2 linked regions of the Homo sapiens genome follow. The protein of the gene in region 1 interacts with the protein of each later gene in a pairwise test. Each region holds a gene or a part of one and is shown on either strand. Other genes may lie near its edges.

Region 1 (3,552 bases):
CGCTTTGAAAATCATGTCCTTGATACGATAAGGCATGACCTCTGATGCCAACTGCTCAGATTCACCCCTGACTCCACCCTTCACTGAGTGACCTTGAACAAGTGAGTTCATCTACAATCTGTAAGATCGATGTGAGGATGAAATCAGCATTTACCTGGGGGAGCTGAAAAGTCACCTTCTCCCTTCTCAGTGATCTACTTCTGTTAATACGACCAAAATATTCAGTGTCTGTGGAATTTCCAGATCATAACTGTTCTATGAAAGGTGTCTAACCACACCTGTATCTTACATGAATATTTGTGCATCTATTGCTGTGAAAATGAGATCTCTACCCCAAAAGTTACTTGATGAAGAATAACTCAATTTGTTACTAATAGTCAATGTATATGAAGCTAATTCTTACAAAGTGAGACAAAACACTTTTATTTTCTAATATGATGTCTTTTTTTAAATTAAGACTGATTTGAACACTTAACACACACATTTTGAGGACCACAAAATAATGTTTCCTAAGATGATTTAATGTCATGGAAAGATGCTCACAGCATATTATTATATGAACAACCTGGACAGAAAAAAAATGTATGTGAGATAAAATAGCAAATTTTTTTGATTGAGGTAGAATTCACATACCACGAAATTCACCATTTCAAAGTGTCCAATTCAATAGCATTTAGTGCACTCACAGTGTCGTGCTACCTTCGTCACTATCTAGGTCCGGAACATTTTCACCATCCCGGGAGGAAACCCCATACTGATTAGCAGTCGCTCCTCAGTCCCACCTCCCCACAGCTGCTGAAAGCCACCAATCCGCTATGCATCTCTTCAGATTGGCCTGTTCTGGAAATTTCGTATAAAAGGACAGTACACTATGTGACCTTTTGCATCTGACGTCTTTCATTCAGTATCATGCATTCAAGGTTCATCCACAGTGTAGTAGGGATCACTGCTTCATTCCTTTTTATGGCTGTGTAATACTCCATTGTATGGATGGACCACATTTTGTTTATCCTTTCATCTGGTAATATATAGCTTGGGGTTGTTTTCATCGTTTGGCTACTGTGAATAGGGCCGCCATGAACATTCACGCACAAGCGTCTTTCTGTTTGAACACTTGTCTCAATTATTTTGAGTAGATATCTAGGATGGAATACAGGACTGTGGAACAGGGTCTTAGGGTAATTCTAGGCTTCACTTTTGATGAATCAGGGGTCATTTTAGTGGGGTCAGAGTGGGTCTCTGCAGAACTCAGCTCAGGGGCTCCACCCGCAGCCAAAGTCCGCCCTCTGCGCGCAGGACCAGCTCCGGCTTCCTGCGGGGCTCGGTGTGGTCAGGCAGGACGCGGAAGCGCAGCAGCGTGAGCGCCAGGACCACCTTCATCTCCGCCATCGCGAACGTCTGCCCGATGCAGTTCCTAGGGGAGGGAGGTGGGAACTCTGACTGCACCCAGGAGCCCCATCCTGGCCCCATCAAGCCGGTAACCTGGCCTGGGACACCCAACCCCACCTAGAGCAGTTTGAGGAATAGAGAAGGGGGTATCCGTGCCTGGATCCCCATGCGGGCTTGCATATCCTGCAAGCCTAGCCGAGCTCCAACCCCCAGCCTAGACCAAGGTGGGGTAGGAGGGGGCTCTGAGCACACCACAGACCCTTCTAGGACCAACCCAACCGTACTCTATGGACCTTTTCCTATAAACTCCAGAGGAGGTGAGGGAAAGAGAGCTGGAACTTGGACCATCTACAATGTCCCCCTTTTCCCCACTGTCATGCCCAGACCCCTGCACCCATCAACCCGTTCCCACCTCAGACACAGGCCGCCCTTACCTGGGCCCTGCCGAGAAGGGAATAAAAGCCAGAGGTGACCTCTCCTTGATGTTCTCTGGGTCAAAGCGAAAGGGGTCGTAGACCTGGAGGTGAGACCAAGAAGGGTTGTTGGGTGGGGTCTCCCAGTCCGCCAGCCTTGGAGAGACAGACAGTTGTGTGTGTCTTTGAGGGAGGTGATGTTGGATACTCCTGATCAAAACCCTGCCCCCTCCTCTAGGAGCCTTGGAATGGACAAAAACAGAGAGAGGGGCCCCGCACCTCAGGGTCCGGCCACACAGCTGGGTTGTGATGGGTTCCGAAAACACTGATGAGGCAGATAATGCCTGTGGGAGAGAAGGGAGCAGTCAGGAGAAGGCCTCCTTCACTGAGGGGCCCCTCTTCCTACCCAGGAGACTCCTCCCCGTGAGGCTGTGAGCACCTTTGGGGATGACCCGGCCGTCTGGGAGCACAATGTCCTGGGTGACATGGCGGGAGATGACCGGGACTGGGGGATGCAGCCGCAGGCTCTCCTTCATGCACATGGTCAGGAAGGGCAAATGGGCCAGGTCGTCCCTAAGGAAACACCCCAGCCCCAATCCTTATCAAGGGAGCAAAGACACAATTCTCCAGCTTCTCTCTGTTTGCAAGTGAGACCTTTTCTCCCCGCAATAAAATAAACTTTTAACAAGAATTGTTACAAAGTCGCAAGAATAAAAATAGTGTGGCACTGTGGCAAAAATGAGAAAACAGACCCATGGAACATGAGGGAGAGCTCAGAAAAAGACATGAGAATAAGTGAAAACTTCACATTTGATAAAGACAGCCCCTGCTCAAACCAAAATCCTGGGAAACTGATGGATTTTACAGTTGTAAAAGAAAAAAGTGGATCAATTTAACTTCACAGAAGTTGAATATGCTCAAGATGGTAGTTTTTGCAGATAAAGGATAGTAATGAAAAGTACCCTCCAAAAGTTGAAAGGCAATATTTTGCAACCCAAGACAGAAAAAAAAAAATCAATTTTGGCTGGGCGTGGTGGCTCATGCCTGTAATCCCAGCACTTTGGGAGGCTAAGGCAGGTGGATCACAACATGAGGAGATCGAGACCATCCTAGCTAACACAGTGAAACCCCGTCTCTACTAAAAATACAAAAACTTAGCGGGGTATGGTGGAGGGCACCTGTAGTCCCAGCTACTCGGGAGGCTGAGGCAAGAGAATGGCTTGAACCTGGGAGGTGGAGGTTGCAGTGAGCTGAGATCACACCACTGCACTCCAACCTGGGCGATAGAGACTGCATCTCAAAAAAAAAAAATCAATTTTAATACACATTCTTAAAAGTAAATATTTTTAAAGAATCCAAAGAAAAAGAGCAAAAAAATAAAGGAACCACTTCCATAAAAAGAAACAAACATCAACACGTGAAAGAGATGTTCAACCTCACTCTTATTTAAAACAATGTCCATCAAAAGAAGAAATATGAAGATTGGCATAGATTTTAAAATTTAATAATACATTAGTAGTATTGGTAAAGTTATGGGAAAACTTGTGCCATCAAACTCAGCTAATAGGAAAGGATTTGCAATGATAATTAAAATTGTACAGTGCAAATGTTCTTTGATTCAGCAATTGCACTTCAGGGAATTTGTCCTGCAGAGATGCTTATACATGCAAGGAATGGTCACTGTGCACACATGCTGACTGCCTCATGTCCACTTTTAGCAAAAGGTTGGAAACAAGCCACATACACATTG
Region 2 (3,500 bases), on another chromosome or scaffold:
TACTATTGAGCAGTGCCGGCGAGAGGGCTTCAGCCAGAAGATGCAGGAGCAGAAGAATGAAGGCTGCCAGGTGTATGGCTTCTTGGAAGTCAATAAGGTATCAGGAGGGATCAAGACAAGATAGGGCCAGCTGGGCTGGGCAAGCTCCACTGGGAACCGAGGGCCCAGTCAGGCCCTGAGTAGGCAAAAGGAGGACACAGCCAGTGAATGAGAGAGAATGTTCCTTACAGGTGGCCGGAAACTTCCACTTTGCCCCTGGGAAGAGCTTCCAGCAGTCCCATGTGCACGGTGAGTGATCTGCACTAGCTGGGGAGATTTAGATGCTGGCCACCTTCTTGGTGAGCTTGAGTGGTCCTCTTCTGCCTGCTGCTCATTTGTCTTGGGCAACCATTTGGCCAGAGCAGGCCTTCATCTCAGGGCAGCAGTTTGGCACAGTGGCTAAGAGCACAGGCCGAGGAGCCAGACTGCCTGCATTCAGATACCAGTTTCAGACCTTACTGGCTGTGTGACTTTGAGAAGGTTTCTTAATCTTTTTGACTCCTGTTTTCTACTTTATAAAATGTTGTGAGGGCACTTATCTCACAGGGTGTGTGTGCAGGTTAAAGATGATAGCACGGAGCCTGGCTTGTGGTAGGTACTTGTTGAAATGGTAGCCCCCCGTGTCCGATGATGACCTGTGCATGAGGCTTTGGGAGAAGCAGAGCTAGGTTGGAGCACAGGTTCTGCCACACCTGGGCTATGTCATATTTGGGCCCTATTTAGTTGCTTCTTCTGTAAAATGGGGATGATGATAATAGTACCCACTCACAGGGCTGTTGGGGTGAACAAATGAGATTTATTCTCATTCATTTGTTCATTCATGCATTCACAAAATATTTAGTAATCACCTACTAGTCTAGTTGCTAAGGGTACAGTAGTGAACAATCTGTGCCCTCAGAACATTCTAGTAAAGAAATAGACAATAAGTATATAAAATATAAATAGTCCCCAATTAACAATGGTTCAGCTTGCAATTTTTAACTTCATGATGGGTATTACATGCATTTTTCACTTAACGATATTTTCTTTTTCTTTTTTGAGACAGAGTCTCACTCTGTCGCCCAGGCTGGAGTGCAGTGGCATGATCTTGACTCACTGCAACCTCCACCTCCTGGATTCAAGTGATTCTCCTACCTCAGCCTCTTGAGTAGCTGGGTGTACAGGTGCGTGCCACCACGCCCAGCTAAGTTTTGTATTTTTAGTAGAGATGGGGTTTCATTATGTTGGCCAGGCTGGTCTTGAACTCCTGACCTCAAGTGATCTGCCCGCCTCGGCCTCCCAAAGTGCTAGGATTACAGGCATGAGCCACCGCACCTGGCCGACTTACAATATTTTCAACTTGCAATGGGTTTATTGGGACGTAACCCCAGTGTAGGTCAGGGAGCATCTGTATATGGTATATCAGATGCTGTTAAGTCATATGGACCAAAACAAGGCAGGATAAAGATGGTAATGGGGAGGGGCTAGGGTAGGGCAGTGAGGGTCCTATTTTAAATATGGAGGTCAGGGAAAAACTCTTTGATGAGGTAATATTTTAGCAAAGACCTGAAGACAGTGAGGGAGCCAGCCATGTGGATGTCTGGGGAGGAAGTGTTACAAGCAGAGAGAACAGCAAATGCAAATTCCTAAGGCTAGAATGTGCTTGGCAAGTTCAAGATACAGTAAGAAGGTTAGGGTGGCTGGAGCAGAGGAGCATGCTTAGAAATGAAGTGAGAGAGGCCGGGTGCAGTAGCTCATACCTGTAATCCCAGCACTTTGGGAGGCCGAGGCGGGTGGATCACCTGAGGTCAGGAGTTCAAGACCAGCCTGGCCAACATGGTGAAACCCTGTCTCTACCAAAAATACAAAAATTAGCTGGGTGTGGTGGCACACGCCTGTAATCCCAGCTACTCGGGAGGCTGAGGCACGAGAATCTCTTGAACCTGGGAGGTGGAGGTTGCAGTGAGCTGAAATTGCGCCATTGTACTCCAGCCTGGGTAACAGAGTGAGACTCCATTTCAAAAAATAATAATAAATAAAGAGAGGTCACAGGGCCATATCATGCAGGGCTTGCAGGGGCATTGTAGGGACTCGGGCCGTTACTCTGCATGAGATGAGAAGCCATTGTAGGGCCCTGAAGAAGGTGAGGCATGATCTGACTTAAAAGCTCTCCAGCTGCTCTGTGGACAAGACTGGGCAGGGGAAAGGACAGAATCAGAGAGGCCCATTAGGAGGCAGTTGCAGTGATCAATCCAGGCAAAAGATGGTGGGGCACGGCCCAGAGTGGCAGTGGAAGTGGTGGGAAGTGACTGGCTTCTGGATGTATTTTGAAGGTAGAGCTGAGAAGAGTTCCTGATGGGCATGAGGGATAAAGGAAAAAGGAGTCAAGGATGCCTCCAAAGTTTTGTACCTGAGTAGTAAGAAGGATGGAGTTGCCTGTAATCCTAGCACTTTGGGAGGCCAAGGCAGGTGGATTGCCTGAGCTGAGGAGTTTGAGACCAGCCTGGGCAACATGATGAAACCTTGTCTCTACTAAAAAATGCAAAAAATCAGCCGGGCGTAGCGGCGTGCGCCTGTAGTCCCAGCTACTCGGGAGGCTGAGGTAGGAGAATTGCTTGAACCCAGGAGGCGGAGGTTGCAGGGAGCCGAGATTGTGCCATTTCACTCCAGCCTGAGCGACAGAGTGAGATTCCATCTCCATTAAAAAAAAAAAAAAGGATAGAGTTGCCATTTAGCAAGATGAGGGAGACTCAGGGCAGGTTTAGATGTTCGGAAATGGGATCGTACAGCTGGTATTCGGCTTTTGACGTGTTCAGACCAATAGCATCTGGGTGTCCTTCTAGACACCCAAGGTGTCAAGTAAGTTTTCCATTCAAGCCTGGAGTTCAGGGAGAGGACTTGCCTGGAGATGCAGATGTTGGCATCATCAGCATGTGTATAGAGCTGTGGGACTGGATGAAATCACCCTGGAGGTGAGGGCAGATGGAGAAGAAGGGAAGCTCAAAGGGCTGGGTGCCAGGCCTCCCACATTAGAGGCCAAGGGTGTCAGGGGGAATTGGTAGGGGAGACTGGAGGAGGAGTGTAAGCTGGGAATGTGGCATCCTGCCAGCCACGGACGGGTGTTTCAAATACCACATCAGATGCTTCTGGATGTCAAGCGGGAATTGACCATGGCATGTACATGCAACAGTCACTTATAGCCTTGACTGAGTCATTTAAGGGTGTGACAGGACCACCCTAGAGTGGGTTCGGGAGGGAATGGGGGAGGAGTTGGAGCCAGTATTGACAGCTCTATAGTGGAAATTGCCTAGGGGAGGAGAGAGCATGAGCTGAAGCTAGAGGGAAATGTGGAGTCGAGGGAGGCTTTTCTAAGGAGGGTGATGTAGCAGAATGTTAATATGCTGTTGGAAATTATCGACTAAAGAGCATAAGTGATGCTCCAGAGACGAGACAGTGACCGGAGTGAAGTCCTGGAGAAGGAG

Evidence for each region. The genes of interacting proteins can lie anywhere in the genome.
Region 2: the proteins of CYP4F2 (region 1) and ERGIC3 interact in binary tests that used the Homo sapiens proteins (3 or more experiments, as listed by UniProt).

What each region holds. Positions count from the first base shown.
Region 1 is NC_000019.10:15,877,523-15,881,074, forward strand, and holds the end of CYP4F2 (cytochrome P450 4F2 precursor), read right to left. Parts: intron 2,376-3,552; coding exon 2,242-2,375; intron 2,147-2,241; coding exon 2,082-2,146; intron 1,907-2,081; coding exon 1,824-1,906; intron 1,415-1,823; coding exon 1,249-1,414; 3' UTR 501-1,248; downstream 1-500. UniProt on the Homo sapiens protein: A cytochrome P450 monooxygenase involved in the metabolism of various endogenous substrates, including fatty acids, eicosanoids and vitamins.
Region 2 is NC_000020.11:35,548,578-35,552,077, forward strand, and holds part of ERGIC3 (endoplasmic reticulum-Golgi intermediate compartment protein 3), read left to right. Parts: coding exon 1-97; intron 98-230; coding exon 231-288; intron 289-3,500. UniProt on the Homo sapiens protein: Possible role in transport between endoplasmic reticulum and Golgi. Positively regulates trafficking of the secretory proteins SERPINA1/alpha1-antitrypsin and HP/haptoglobin.